Linked DNA regions of Homo sapiens: region 1 is linked to region 2. A link means that fine-mapping ties the variant in region 2 to the expression of a gene that starts in the linked region. Tissue or cell type: whole blood. Region 2 holds a variant in brackets; the other region holds the start of a gene. All regions are shown on one strand. Distances are from middle to middle.

The links. PIP is the estimated chance that this variant, and not a neighbour inherited with it, causes the effect.
Region 1: it holds the start of ARHGEF11, and the variant in region 2 is fine-mapped to the expression of ARHGEF11 in whole blood (TOPMed, PIP above 0.99). The same link has a PIP of 0.9 or more in lung.

What each region holds. Positions count from the first base shown.
Region 1 is chr1:157,041,023-157,049,022 of GRCh38, reverse strand. It overlaps ARHGEF11 (Rho guanine nucleotide exchange factor 11), which reads left to right and starts at 3,281. Exons shown (of 41, transcript NM_198236.3): 1 at 3,281-4,724. The coding sequence starts at 4,693. RefSeq lists a silencer at 3,071-3,370.
Region 2 is chr1:157,166,492-157,174,739 of GRCh38, reverse strand. It overlaps LOC107985211 (a long non-coding RNA gene), which reads right to left and starts at 1,249. Exons shown (of 4, transcript XR_007066653.1): 1 at 997-1,249. RefSeq lists an enhancer at 1,458-1,959. The variant T/G (reference allele first, on the strand shown) is at 4,030.

The DNA of each region.
Region 1 (8,000 bases), 130 kb after region 2:
ACTGCACTCCAGTCTCGGCGACAGAGCGAGACTCCGTCTCAAAAAAAAAAAAAAAAAAAAAAAAAGAATGCACTCATAATAGTATTTAATTATAGCAAAAATAATTAGGTTTTACTAACACTAATGACATGGCATTCTCACTCAGTCACTATGTCAGAAGTCATCTGTCACACACAGTATATGAGGAGGTTCCAAGAACCAGAGGTAACATCACCATTGACGTTCATTTTCTTCATGATGTACGCCACCCACCAGACAAAAACAAGCCTGTTAACTGCTACAAACTTTACAATTCTTTGTAATGACAGAGAATGACCATGAAAATCTTTGCTGTGCAGATTAACAATCTCCTGGGGAAAGCCTAAAATGAAATACTGAACATGGAGGAGATGCACAGTTTTATTTCAGTGTTCTATGATGAGAAATGGCTGTCAAGAGTATGCTACCTAGCACTTACTTGCAAAAACAAAAACAAACAACAAAAACACCGCTTAATCTGTCCCTTCAAGCTGTCCCTTCAAGGTTAAGATGACAGTCTATCTACGAGCGAGGAAGTCACTGCTTTTCTAAAGAAACACATACTTTAGGAAAAAGTATTTTGAAGACGGATGACTGGAAATGGTTCCAATATTGTGATTTTTTTAATTACCAAAAACAATGGTTTCACCTATCAAAACCTTTGCACACTGAAAAATTAGGAAACAGAATTTGAAAACCTATTTTTTAAAGTTAAATGAAATTTCTTAATGGCTGGAACCCATTTGTTAAGAATATAAAAATGTAACACCTTCCAATCATTCAAGAAGGATTGACTTAAGATATAAATTTACTAGTTGAATTTCAATTAGAAGTCTTTGCATTGTTGATGAATGGGATTGGAAAATAAGTATCATGATTTAATAAATGCAATCAAGGGCATACTTCTTCTGTTTGAATCTACCTATCTTTGGCAAGCATCTTTTCCAGTTATGACAGCAATTAACTTTCACCAAAAAGCATGATTTAAAAAATGTTCATTTTTAAATTTCAACCTTTTAATATTTCTACACTAGGCAATGTTGTATAAGATATGTAATAAAATATATGTAAATACTTGCTTTAAAAATATTACATATATTAAGAACACATTATCATTATTATTATCATTTTGAGATGGAGTTTCACTCGTCACCCAGGCTGGTGTGCAGTGGCGCAATCTTGGCTGATTGCAACCTCTGCCTCCCGGGTTCAAGCGATTCTCCTGCCTCAACCTCCGGAGTAGCTAGGATTACAGGCGCTCCCCACCATACCCAGCTAATTTTTTGTATTTTTAGTAGAGACGGGGTTTCACCATGTTGGCCAGGCTGGTCTCGAACTTCTGACTTGAGGTGATCCACTCGCCTCGGTCTCCCAAAGTGCTGGGATTACAGGCGTGAGCCACCGCACCTGGCCAAGAAAACATTATTTTAAAATGTGTGGCAACCAGTGGTCTGTCACCACAGAGCAGTGTCCACATTTGAGAGCATCATTTTTGCGGGTAGTATGGGAAAGAAAGACACAATTAAGTCAGCAACAATCTAGACTGTGCTTCAAATGCTGGGCAGATCACCTGTTTTGGGGAGTTCTGGCCTAGGGGTTGGTGGAGACAGGGTGAAGGAAGCAGGTTCTTTTATTTGCCAACCTATACCTGATATACATTAAAGGGAAAGTTCCTGGTTCATAGTAGGTCTTCAACTGATGCTTATTCGTTTCTTTTTCCTCTTGCAATTTGCATATCTACCACTTCTAACACTGGTGAGGTCACTCCAGAGCTCACGAATGTGTATAGATAATTTACATATACATATCCACCCCCTCCCAGAACAATCCAGGTAGTGTGAAAGGAGAGAACTTATGCAAACACCCCACTGCCTGCAGAGTATTTTACAATGGCATTTACCTAGGCAAGAAGGCAAAGTCCACTCCCCAATCCTAGTGAGAGTTTTTTTATTTTAATAATTTTTTAAAAAAAATTTTATTATTATTAGTTTTTTGAGACGGAGTCTCGCTCTGTTGCCCAGACTGGAGTGCAGTGGCGCAATCTCGGCTCACTGCAAGCTCCGCCTCCCGGGTTCAAGCGATTCTCGTGCCCTAGCCTACCGAGTAGCTGGGATTACAGGCACGCGCCACCACGTACGGCTAGTTTTGTATTTTTAGTAGAGGGGGGGGGTTTCACCATGTTGGCCCAGGATGGTCTCGAACTCCTGACCTCAGGCCCCGCCTCGGCCTTAATGATTTTTAATCATAACGCTCGGCACCTTCTGACAAATGTCACGTTACTTGTAAAGATTTAGAAACTGTGATTCTATGAGAGGGGGTTATGAAAATAGAATTGCTCTGGAAAGGCTCTTCCATAGAGTTCAAAGACACTTCACACAGCCTGCTATTAAGATGCCCAACCCAACCCGAGAGGAAACAGCGAAGGGTCTTCCCCCTAAGTCGGTGGTATTAGAAGTGGGAAGGACCACAGAAACGGGAGGAAACAGTTAAAAGAACTGACACCACGAAGGAGGCCGCAACAAATGTTTGAAAAATAAGATCAGAAGAGAGGTGGAGAGAGGGTGAGCCGCAGCTGCGGGCGCCGGGGTAATGCCGGTGGACGCAAAGAGGTAAACCTGCACCCGTGGGCAGGGGCACGGGGCGCGGGCACGGTGGCTGGGCGGGCAGGGGGTAGGAAACAAAGGTCGGCTCCCGAGCAGAAGTCAATAAAAGGGGGAAAAGCAGCCGAGGAAAAGCGGCGAAAAGGCGGCAGGGGTGGCGGTGGCGGTGGCGGCGGCGGGGACGGCGCGCGGTGCCTGGCGGGGTCAGGGCCGGGGTCGCCCGCGGGCCGGGCCGGGGATCCGGCTGAGATGGGAACCCGCTAGGCCGCGCCGAGGGGCAGGGCCGGCGACTGAGGGGCCGCAGAGGGGACCGGCCGAGGAGCGACGGCAAAGGGTTGTGGGGGGCAGGGCGCGCAGGGAGGCCGGGACAGGGGCGGGCCGGTCGGCGGGAGTCGCGGCCGCGGGAACCGAGGCAGGGAAAGGCGGTCAGCTTCCCGCCCCCGCCCCCGGCCGCCGCGGCGTGAGGGGAAAGGCCGGCGGGCGGCGGGCAGCGCAGCGAGGAGGAGGAGCCTGCGGCCCCGCCCCGCGGGAGCGAGGGAAGGAGAAAGGCTCGCAGGGAAGGAGGGAGGGAAGGGGGGCGGCCGGCCGGGCCTGCGCCCGAGCGAGCGGCGAACCGAGGGGGAAGGGGCCCGGAAGGAGGCGAGCGCGGCCGCGACGCCGGCAGTCGGACGCCCGCTCGTGCCGGCCTGCCGCAGCCGCCGCAGCCTTCCCTGTGCGCCGAGCCTGGCGTCCCGAGCGGCCGCGAAGGCCGGAACACGGCGGTCGGGCGCGGGGCGAGCGGCGCCGGGAGCCCGAGGCCCGGCCGGGCGTCCTGCGCGAGGCACTGCGGGCTCCTGCCTGCGAGATTAGGCGAGGGGCGGAAAGGGAGGCAAGGAGAGGCCGAGAGGAGACAGGCGATCGGATTTTCCAGGAGTCTGGTGTGGAAGAAAAACCCACCTCGAACTCAAATCCACAATAATAATCCGAACGAATAATAAGGGAGCCGTCTTTCTGGCCGGGCGAGAGAGAGGGAGAGAGAAGGGGGAACGGGAGGAAGCGAAATCTCCGTTTCATGGAGGCTGAGGCAAGAGAAAATTTCGGAGCCTGGATGTGGAGGAGCCCAACAGCAGAACTAACTCAGGAAATTGTCTTTCAGAAAAAGGCCGAACGTAGGCTGGGTCTGAGAATCAGGCTGGGGTAGGTGGAGGAACCTGCAAGTTTAAAGGAAAAAGAAAAGGAGAGAATATTTTCAGAGATTATCTCTGGTTTGTTATCATTACTACCATCTTAAAGGTAAAAAGCATTGCATTTCAGGTGTTCTTTGATTTTTATTTTATTTTTTTTTTTGGTGCAATTGGCTCATTTAAGAATTTCAAAACATTTAATGTAAAAGCTTTTTTTTTTTTAAGGAAGTCCATAAATTTTGGTTCCCAGGGTTGCACTGGACTTGGAAGGAGTGCTGTTGTGTACATACTATTGTATGGTTTTATTTATTATTTTACTGTACAAATCAGCCGAAAGAATTTTTCCAAGTGCCATTTCGGATTTATTAATCCTTTTTTTTTTCCTTTCCTCAAAGATATTTGCTGTTGTCATATTAAGCATTGGAGACTAGAAAATTACTTTCCCCCTTTGAGCTAGAGGGTCTCTTGCCAACAGAAGGACAGCTGAGAAAGCTGGATTTAAAGGATGGTTTTATCTGTACTTTGCAGTTAACAGTGATATTTTGAAGGCACATTTTTCTGTGATTCATTTTTTTTTGGCCATAGTGCTAACCTTGAAGAGATTCGTGGCTGGGTTTTTGGTTTCTGAGAAGGTCGTAGTTTTTCCTCTTTTCCTTTTTTTTTCTTTTTTCTTTTCTTTTCTTTTTTTTTAAAGCGGGGGAGGGGAAGAGGGGCTGAGAAAGGAAATCATGTTCACTGGTAGAAGTAGAGTGGAGCATCAGTTACCAGGGTCCTGAGAGCTGGAGGAGAAAGGATTCTATCTTCAAGTTGGGAGGCCCTCCTCTCACCTTGCTCAAAAATTGCAAGCGATTCAATCCTGATCAAGACACCAAAGCTACAGGATTCTGGAACCGTGGAGACACCGAGAAACCATGAGTGTAAGGTTACCCCAGAGTATAGACAGGTAGGTTTGCTAATAATTTGATTTTTCAACATTGACTAAAGGAAAGACTGGGAGGGGTGGTGTTGCATTTTAATAAATGGTTGAAAATAGGGGTCTGGGTGGGCTATGGGAATTGGTGGGCTAGGAGCATTAGTCTCTGGGGACTGTCAGCCTATGTGGTTATGTGCAAAAACATAGCTCTTGATTCAGCGTCTTTTGAATATAAGCAATAAACAGTGAAGCCAGGAGAGGGAAAGGAGGAGGATGTGCTTCCAGTGGCTTTTGACTTTTGCCAGGGTAGAGGCTGAATTTGAGTCCACCCAACTTGCTAGTCTCAGGTGGGGGCAAGCCAGTCTTGTGAGCTCCTAGGGTTGCACTAGGGGGACTGGCTTTAGGTGTTGGAGCTGCTGGGAGAAGGGCCCTGGCAGAGGCGTGGGCCTCCACCAGGCTGGTTGGTATGGAATGGTGGGGCTTGGTGACGGGGTGGATCCCATTTCTAGAAATGAAGAGGATGTTCTTGGCCTGAATGATGGGACAGAAACATCCTTTGCACCCATGCAAGTCTGGATTTTTACCAGTAGCTGACATGGTCCCAAAATGCATAGATCACATTAGAATTTCCTCTCCTCCAAGCTTAGAGTTTGAATTGAGACCTGCCAACCGGCTGATGCTCTAGGTTTAATCTTCCAAGCTGTTCTTAATAAGCTTGACTCTGCAAAATGGGCCTTCCCTCTGCCTGGAGCCAGAAGAAATTGTTTTGGGCTCGTAGGCCTGCTGGGCAGCAGCACTGGCCCTCAGAGTCTGAACACATGACACCCCTTGCCCCAAGAGTCTGCCCAGCCACCTCTATCACTGGTAATGTTACTGTGTGGTTGCAATTCTTACCTCCAAATGATTGGTACAACTTTGTAAGGTGTCTGCCTTTTCCTTCCCTCCCCTACCCCTCCTCAACGCTTCTCCCCATGAGAACCTTGCTGTGGGGGGTGTGTTTTGTGGGCACTGCACACATCCTAACTGGATAGATGGGTGGTTGAAGGACTGAACAAGCAAATGAAAGGACTGGGCCTGGAAAAAAATATTATTGGAGAGATAGGGAAGAATATTTGCAAGGGAGCAATTGTTCCCTCCATGCCCAGTCCACCTTCGGTTATCCATGCTAATAATAATTTCCTTTTGGTTGTGGAATGTGGCCTAAAATGCATATAATCTCTCTCTCTCAAGCACTAATCTCTGTATTGCCTCAGAGTCCCATTTAGATTAGTTCAGCAGTCCCTAGATGGGAACTGACTTGGCAGTGGAGAAGAGGAGGCAGACAGCCACAAAGGATGTACGGCCAGTTCAGACCTCCTTCCTCCTTTCTGTTGGCCTCTCTGCAGTTTGACCCTTGGAAAGGGAGAACTGAGGTGTGTCAAGGTGAGGAATTGGAATGGTTTACATGGCTGCCCTTCTTCCCTTTTCATCCTCTTGGAGTTTGAGAATTAGTGCACTTGCCTTTTTAAGATTTGGATGGTGAACTCTTTCTGGTAAATGCAAGGATTTGAGAAGATGGGAACCCAAGTTTTGGGGGCGTGCAAGAAGGAGGAGGCGGTGAGCCTTCCTGGGTTGATGTGAGACACTCCTGGGGGTTTGGATATCCTCATAGATAAAAATCTCAGGATTTGCCCAGCACATTACAGTTTCCTAAGTGCTTTCGTAGAACATATCTCATTTGAATCTCACAGTGGTTCTGTGTGAGGTAGACAGAAGCATCAGAGGTTATTATTCATGTTTCACAGAAGGGGAAACTGAGGCTCAGAGAGGCTACCTGGCTTGCCCAGTGCCATCTTGCCTGGCTAGTGGCAGAATCTGGACTCAAAGACTCAAACACAGGTCTTCTGAGTCTGAATCTGTAGCTCTTTCATTGCCCCATCATGTCTAACTAGGCTTCTGTACTGGTCCTGTAGAATGTGTGGGGCACCGTTTTCTCCTTTCTCTTTGGTAGTAGGGTAAAGTGCCCGTCAGCAGTCAAGGTCTTCCCTTCTACTTTTCTGTCTTGGGGCTCCTACCTTGGGGGTTCAGTCTTGGGGCTCATACCTGTAAGTCCTATAGTTAAAGCACTATTTTCTCTTGTAAGATAGTGCAGCTTTGCAGGGTAAGGGTATTCCTCACCTCCACCCTGCCTGATTCTCTTCCCCATTAAGAGTGGTAGGACTCAGATCCCCTTCAGACATCCCCAGCTAGCTGCACTGAATCTTACTCCCTTAACTGTAGGCTTATTCAATTGTAACTTTGGGCAACATCAGCCTCAAGACTCTATGGATTTTAAATAATTTACAGATTTAAATCACACTGAAAGGAATAATACGCTGCGGATTATGGAGTCTAGTATTCTTTCAGTTTATCAGTTTGCTGTGTAGAGAGCCTAGTGTAAGGTGCTATAGGAGAGTTTTAGAAAATTAAGGTGTACAGTACTTGCTCACAGAGAGAGCATGCAACTGGGGGACTGGGAAACACGTAAGACTCTTGAAGACCACATAAAGCAACACCAGACTGTAAGCCCCTCACAAGCAGGGACAGTTTGGTTTGCCTGTATGAAATCCTGTGTGCCTAGCTTAGTGTCTTGCATGAGGTGAGTACTCAAGAAATGTTTGACAAATGAATGTTAGAGTGAATGAACAGATCAGCAAGTACAAATTATTTCATTGCGGGTTGTTTCAACATTCACGTGTTAATTTCAAATGTAGTCAAATAAGGTCAATTAGAGAAGGTTTCCTAGGTAATGTGTATTTTCTAGAAAATAAATGACATAATAAAGGACTATGTATTTGGAAAGAGATTGTAGCTGAGAGTAAGAAAATTTTGGAATATTTACTTGGCAGTCTTTCATCTCCTGTAGCACCCTGTTCAAGAGTGACTCCTGGGTCCATAGAAAGCATAAAGTATTTGCAACTATTCTTTATCTTTCAGTGTTAATCAGTTGTTACTGAAAGATGGGCTAAAGTGTAGCTGTTCATGTCCCTTTCAGTTTTTGTCCATGGGCAACTTACTGCCCATTAATATATATTCCTTTCAAGAGTTTCTAAAAATGTGTTTGCTATTGCAAACAGAGATAATGATACTAAATTATTTTTACAGGAGTGGTCATGAGTTTTGCTAAGCCATCTATATCTGTTAGCCTGGTTCCCCCATGGCAAATGTTTTTGAGATGGACAGGAGGGTTAGGGGTTTGCATCCATGAAACATCTTTCCTCTGCCCAAAGTTAGTTCATGTGAGGATCAAACCAAAGTACTTTAAGCCAAGAGTTTGTGGTTTGAGTC
Region 2 (8,248 bases):
ATGGTCTTTCCAAATTCAAGTCCCCTCTCAGTGAAGTGAGTCTGCCACACTAGGATGACTTCAGACCTTGAGGAGCCACACCAAGGGAGAGGGAGGCCAGGCCTGTCCCAGGCGGCATCTCACCTCCCTCATACCACCCCCAGGAAGAGGAACCAAGGCCTGTGGCTCCATATCCAGAGCCTCTGGGCCCCAAGGCAGCCCTGGACCAACCACAGCCACCTCCGTCTACACTCTGCCAGTCACAAACAGGCCTGCACTGCCTCACGCCCAGCACAGCCCTGCACACATGCTGGCCTGAAAAGCCTCGGTGGTCTCACTGGGGACCCTCATACTCTAAGGTGGAGGTGGCCAGCCCTGCCCTCCTCCCTCGGGGCTCATGGTCTCATTTCACAAGGTGTTTTCATCCTAGTCTTCGCCACCTCAATCATGCCAACTACGTTACCTTTTGAACCTGGGAAAGGCCCCACTGATGGAGAGACAGCTTGGGCCTATGGTAGGGCCAGCTCCCGCCCAACGTCAGTGTGTTGGTGACATTCGCACTCCAACCACAGCAGACAGGTGCCTTTCTGCAGGACTTCCTTTATCTCAAGAGTTCCTTCTCAGTTCTTGGTTTCCAGAATCTCTCTTTCATCCAGCAGAGGAGGAGGACAGGCCACATCACCCAGTCCAACCTCCAAACCCACCAGGGACTCAGGTCACAGCTGCTCCACCCCCCAGGGAAGCCTGTGGTCTCTGCAGATCCCAACTGCAACCCCAGAACGTGCCCACAGACCTTTGAGCCCCCTCTCGATGGGGCACAGAGGAAAGGGAGAGCCCAGCAGGAGCTGTTCACTGGGAAAACAACTCCTCATTTACAGGGGTTAGCCCCATTCCTTATGGACCACAGAAGGATGCCCCGTCAGCCTCCAGTCTGCCCACCTGCACCCAGTGCCTGAGTAAGAGCCTTCCCTGCCATCCCCTATCAAACGTCTGCTGCCCCTTCCACATGCAGCTCACCTGGCCCTGGGGAGCCGTCCCCGACCTGCCCCAGGTGAATTAGGTGCTCTGGGCTCTCCCAGCACTCTTAGCTGTTGTCCATGAAGACCCTGAGGGTGTCATGTATGCTCTGGAACAAGACAAGCAGCTTCCATCTAGGCTACAGGCGGCAGCCTGCTCTGATTGTCATGCAGCACATATTTACTGAGCACACCTGAGCCTGGCACTGGAGGAGACTTCCCTTCCTGTCCAGTCACCACCTGCTGCTGTCACTGAGCCCCTAGGTGGTTTCAAAGAGAGCACAGCCTCACTCAGCACCTCCCCTTCTGACAGACATCTCAGCCCACAAGGGGCCCACGTTCTGTGGTAAAATGAAGGAGAGCTCCTCTCCCTTAAATGTTCTCAGGCAGCCCTGAGCAGTCAGGTGTGTGCTATTGTTCCATAGCTGACACAGCAGCCCACCCTGGCTGTGTGGTGCCCACCTCCTTAGGAGCCTGCAGGGCTCCAGCTCAGGGCTGGGCCCCAAGACACACTCCAGCATCAGCCATCTTGCTTGCCAGAGGAGGCGCATCAAATGCAGGTTGAACTTCTCAAATGCAGTTATTTGCCCTCAGCAAAAAAATATGAGAGGCGGGAAAATATCCATTTAAATGTGCAGCAATTCTACTCAGATCCCAAAGTAAGTATGACATGGGAGCCGCAAATCCATGGTGCCCCTGGTCCATCTCTCTGCTCTCGCCTGCCTCTCAGATGTGCACCTTCTGCTGCCTGGTGGGCAGCAGTGAGCAGGTAGCAGTTTAACCACTGGCTCCACAGGAGGAAAAAGCCCTGGTTTCTAGTAATTGCTAATTTCCATGGTGTAAATATTCCCACTCTGTCTAATTACAACCACCAACATCATGACTATGAACACAGATTTGGGAGGAGATGCACAAAACCAGCTCACAAGCCGGCTCCAGCTGGCTCCAGCACACACTGTCTGTGAGTGGATCTAATAATTAAATATGCAGGACACATTTTTCATATAGCATGGCCCCTCAACACCAGCCAACCATTTCATCGGGAAGAAAACACAGCCTCTTCCCAAGCAGAAGGAGAAACTTGCTGAGGGATGGAATGTTGGTCTCCAGTAGAGCAGCACTCTAGGGGATCCACACAGCAGATTGTAACTGTAATTGATTTCCACCTCAGAACCCAATTCTTCCCATCAATCACCAAAGCTAAGGCTTGGTTACTCCTCACCCAGCCTCCTCCTTCACTGCTGGGCTGTCCCAGCCTAAAACTCACGTGGGGTCCCCACTGTCCACTTCCCCACAAGACTGTGTAGTCTGAGGGCACAGAAAGGCTTTTCCTTTGGGAGCCCAGCATGCTTGGAGACAGGACTTGGAATCCAACTGGACGTTGATTCCATTCCTGCTTCTACCGCTAAGCTCTGTCATCCAGCAGATCCTCAATGGCCTCATCTGGAAAATGAGATAATACCTCCTCTGCAGGGTTGCTGGGAGGACTAAATAGATAGAAGAAAGCCCCACACACAGCACAACACACAACAGGGCAACTCCGACTCCCTCCCCTCCCCTCCCCTATTCTTCCCCGGAGAAACAGGGCTGAGCCATAGTCGGGCAATGTCGCCACTTAGTGGCTGTGCTCAGAATTGCCCAAAAGACCAACAGTTCCTGGATTTGAGGAAAACAGGGAAAGCACTTAGGGAAGAGGTGTTGAGTTTCTGAGAAGCCATTTGGCATTATGGAAAGTGACTGGGTACCGGCATCTGGAAAACCAGGTTCAGGTCCCAGCCTTGCCAAATATTAGCTGTTTGATCCTAATCAAATTATGTAACTTCTCTAAGCATCAGTTTCATCATGTGTAAAATGGGGACGATAATTTTAACCTCAGATTAATGCTCGGAAAGCGTTTGTTGCCCTTATCTTGCTCCTGATGCTCTTCCAGCCCTCTCTCCCCATCCTGATAAACATCACCTTCCTGGTTCCTGACCCCCCATTAGCTCCCCAGGGCCACAGCTTCTCATCCCTGTTTTCAGGAGCACTAATTCCCCCAAGACACTACCTCTCAGAGAGAGATTTTCAAAGTCCACCGTCTTATCCTCATTGCTTCAGGCTCAAAAACTTTACATTCTTACAAATTTAATAATTCCTAGTGACACATTCATGGTGACAAAATTAAGTCGAGATTATATACAAAGCAGAATGCCAAGTCTCTCATTTACAATAAAAGTCACCCATCTCTGGGAACAGGTACCAAGCCAGAGAATCAGGACACCCTCTTCCCATTAACAAAGTCTCTTCCCAACCACAAGGGCTGTTGCTGGACACAGACTCCGAGATGGTCACGGTGAGAGACTGTTTGTCCCACATTCAGGAACATCCCGAGACTCCCTAACCCCGGCTTCAAACACCTCCCTGGTTGGCAGATGCCTGTGACCCTCGTCCCGAGGACACGCGCCCACCAGCCTCGCTTCCGCGCTGACCAGCACCTTCCAGGTATCAAGCCCTCCCCACATGGGCCGAAGCCTTAGTCAGCTGGCCTGGGAAAGCCCAGGCTTTAGAACTGCACAGAATTGGGTCTGAATCTCATTTCCCACTTATTACCTTAGTGACCCTGGACAGATTGCTGAACTTGCCTGAGCCTGTGAGCTCATCACAATGGGGCACAAGCACCCACTTCAGGGAGTGTCTGCGTTGAGTAAGTGAGGCCCTGTGCGTGCCCAGTGAGGTGCCCGGCAGATGTTCAGCCAATGATCCTATTTCATTCCAAACCCCGCATCTAGGAGATCCTTCCTCCTTTGTGAAGGTGCTGGATTTACCACCAGGCCAGAGTCCAGGGCGCCCCCTCGTGGCTCTGCGTTTACCAAATTTTATTTCAGAATAAAATTATTGGCCGGCTCGTTGGCTCACACCTGTAATTCCAGCACTTTAGGAGGCAGAGGCGGGAGGACTGCTTGAGGCCAGGAGTTCAAGACCAGCCTGGGCAACAGAGCAAGACCCTGTCCTTCCTAAAATTTTTAAATTAAAAAAAAAAACCTCTCCTTGAGGA[T/G]AGGAGACACCTGAGGAGAGATACCCCCACTAATTCCTCAGCCATCTCACTTTTGTATTTTAAAATAGGAGCCACTAAAATCCATTTACAATGAAAGAAAAATGTAAATGTATATCTATAAGGCATTTTTCCCTCCGTAAACACAGTAGATTCTTCACTCATCAGAATGAAATGTCATTAAACCTAAGCAAATGGATAAGCAGAGTAAATTATACATTTCTATCTAAAAGACTGGAACAAACAGGTCCATTTATCAGAATCTAAGCAATAAAGCAGCATCCCCACCCCAATCTAGGAAAAATATCTACTGCTAATTGCTCTGCCTGGGTGTTCCTGTATTTGGGCTTAAATTAGTTTTGAGCCATCTCCTAAAGCAGTCTCTACAAAAAGCCAAAATCTGTTCTTCTAACATAATATGTGCAGGTGTCCAACAGGCCTTATGGGCCTCAGACATCTGCTTAGGTGTTTCCTGGCCTAGGGGCCCCCGGCCATATATCAGACAGTTGACATTTATTAAGCACTTACTATGTGCCAGGGGCTGAGGCTACACACTTGATATGCATCTCATGAATCCTCAAACAACTCTATTATTTCTTTTCTTCTTTTTTCTTTTACAAACCCTTGTGTCAAGGGCTGAGTTTCAATAGATCACAGCAAGGGAGCTGCTCTGCTATGTACAAAACCCCAAACATTATGATCATTATGTCTACTTCACAGGTGAGAAAGTGAGGCTTAGAGAAGCAGTGATTTGTCCAACATCCTAGACAGATAAATAACAGTAAGGATTCAAACCTAGGTCACTCTGGCCCCAAAGCGCTTGTTCTTGTCCTACACTCCCAATACAATCTTGATTGCTTTTCTCAACGCACCTTTACAATAACATCTGCACTAGGACAACTATTACTGAGCTTGTCCAGTAGCAAACAACAGACTCTATGTTTTCTTTGCTGAATTCATTAACTTTTTCATATTTTGGGAGGACCAAATAACATTTCCTTCAGTGGCTTTTACTTCAGCCACTCTCATTCCCTTCTAAAGATGTTTGTGATGAATTTCTGACCCATCTGTGCCCTTAAAGTCTGCTCATGTCCAACAAAGCAGGCAAATGATAAGACCTTATGGACTTAGGTGGCATCTGTGTCTGTAGATGGAAAATCCCCCTCTCCACTCCTACTGCTCGAAACCAAGCACACTTTGTGTCTAGATCTTGGTTTCTAAAGCCAATCCCTGCAAAAAGAACTAGACCTTTTTGGAGAAATGGCTGATTGTTGATTCTGGGACTGAAACAAAATATACAATGTGAGCTCAGAGCGTCCTGTAGTGCCAGAACCAGAACGTAAGGAAGTGCTGAACAACAACAAAAAGACACGACAGGAGCCTGCTACAGAGCAGCCAATGGCCACAATGGGAAACTATTTGAGCCACAAAATAAAGTAGTATTGATTAATAACCCAAAATATAAAATAAATATCAATGAGTTCCTATGATATCAATGCATAATTGAATGAATCAATAATTGGACGAGAAGAAAGAATCTCCTGTGGAGAATAATTCCAAACCTTATGAAGATACTCCACCCTTAAGAAGGCGACACCTAACTCTCACTCCTGCAGTGTGGGCTCCATGGAATGACTTTTTCCAAGGCATACAATATGTAAAGGAAGGGGAAAGGGTAAATTGACAGTGGATGAACCTGCCAAACACGATCTTTGACAGGTGATCAACATCAACATAAGATTAAGTCCTGTTGATAGTATGTACTGTGATAAAACGTGATGAAAATGGTGTTTCTTCTGTGGTCTTCCTCCCAAAAACCAAGACCCAAAATCCAAGTCTCATCATGAGAGAAACATCAGGCAAATCCCAATTGAGGAACATTCTTCAAAACACACGACCAGTACCCCTCACGAAAGTCAGCGAAAACAAGGAAAGTCTGAGTAGCTGTCACAGCCCAGAGGAGCCTACAGAGATGTGTAGGGTGGGATCTGGGAACAGAAAAGGACATCGCGTAAAAACTAAGGATGTCTGAAGAAAGTATGGACTTGAGTTCATAAGAATGTATCCATATCGGTTCATTAATTGTAACAGATGTTAATAGCATAAGATGTTGATAAAAGGTGAAACTAGGTGTGGAGTCTGTGGGACTCTCGGTACTATCTGCCTAATTTTTCTGTAATGTAAAACTTTTATAAAATATAAAGTTTATTTTATTTAAAGTGCTGCCACTCCTAGGCCCATGTTCCTTCTTATTACCACAGTTCGTGACAGATACTCAGGCATGTCCAGACATCATTTCCACAGAGGCCGGCCAGGTCTGTGTGTGAGGCTTCTCCCCTCTCTTACCCAGGAGCTCTCGTTCCAAATAAAACCCTGTTCCCACTGCTGACTTACAAAAGCAGAACTGAAAATTGATCGGGCTCTGTTTGGAGTCTCGGTTCACAGGGGCTGACTCCACATCCATTCCTCAGATACTCACTGAGCACAGCCTCTGTGCCAGGCACAGCCAGGGGACCAGGATGAGCGCGGCGTGAGTGCTCCTGCCTACACCATGTGCAGTCAAGTGTGGGAGAGGTGTTAAACAGGGAAACGGGCAAGGGCCAAGGAAGTTCTCTGGGCCGTCTTTCCTAAGGGCCCTAATTCCATCCATGAGGCTCTGCCCTCATGACCTAATCACCTCCCAAAGTTGCCTCCAAAAGCCATCTCATCAGGGATTAGGTTTCAACCTATGAAAGAAGGGAGGATACAAACACTCGGTCTACAGCAATTAGCAAACTTTCAGTTCTCTTATATATTAAATGGCCATTTGTATTTCTTGAGTCTTCAGTCTTTCCCCATTGTTCTAGGGCGCTGTTAATCTTTTCCTTATTCATTTGTAAGAGCTTTGGTATATTAGAAATTAGCTGTCTGCCCTATGTGTTCAGAACACTCTTTTCTTTGTTTATTCCTTCCTCATCCCCCCATCAGGGGCTTTGAATGGCTCTAGCAAGCCGACTTTGAGTTTAGGGTGGGCCAGGTGATGACGATGTGTGGGAAGGACATGCATCAGGTGGCACAGTGCCTCGTCTTAAGCATCTGCTTCTCCCCAGGGACTAGCAGGACCCTGTCACTTTTGTGGTGCTCAGCTGTATGGGGAACTGTATAGGGAAGCCACATTTTGCAGGAAGACAGCAAGAAGTGGTCAGGGAATCTGTTCAGTGAGTCGGGGGGCTGTTGGCCCACAAGACAGGCACATGTCACAGCTTCAAGAGGAGGAGGCTCCTATGAAGTATCTTGCCCTGGAATGTGCAGCATTGTCTGCACAGCTGCTGGGAGCCTCCAATTACTGTGCCACTGAGGCCAGCTTCAGGCCTTTCCCAATTGAAGGTCCCCCTGAACACTTAACGACCAGACGGCAGCAGCAGGCCTACCTGCTGGGCAGCCCACAGGGTGGGATGGTCTGTTCAGATAGAAGCCAGTGCTCTTTATAAAGAACTGAGGCTTGTCCCAAAGGCAAGAATGGCTGCACTGAGATGCTAATAGGCAAAGGGGAGGCCATGGGTCCCATCTAACCCAGAAACAAAATAAACTGTGGCAAGCAAGTGCTTCTGGGACCCCAGTCCATGGAAGTCATGATGGGAGACATACCACAGCACAGCAAAGAGGTGGAAAGAGCCCTGTTTGGCTGCTTTGTTTTGTTTGGCCTTAAAAAAGGACAAGACCTCTCACACCAGCTCCCTTAGAAGCCCCCAAGCTGCAGCCAAGCTCCTGCAGTACCAGGCCTGCCCACACACTTTGAAGATTCCTGGGGTTTCAGTTCCAACTGTGGCTCTCACCTTTTTATTTTCTGGAGGGCAATTCTTCCAGAATATGTTTTAGGGAATTTGAAGAGTTATTGCCAAGCGGGGTTTCAATGATGCTAATCAATTTCCTGGTCGTCTGCTCCATGCCACTGTCTGCTGGCATCATGCCAGAGGAAAGAACCTCAGCTCTAATGACTCGAAAAATATTGCCACTAGCCTGCAGGAATCGGTGGTTAAAGCGGAATCTGGGCAACATCAGAGGCCTCTGTGTAGCAGACCTGGAGTCCCCTAATGCTAAATCCACACCAGTTAGCAGGTGTATCTCATGAGGTTGGATGTGTTCCATGGCCTTGTCTGGTCAAGGTAATCACACCTTCCAGGAGATTTCTTTCAAATGTAATTTCTCAGAGTGATAGAGATGATGCTGACCGGTATCCCCA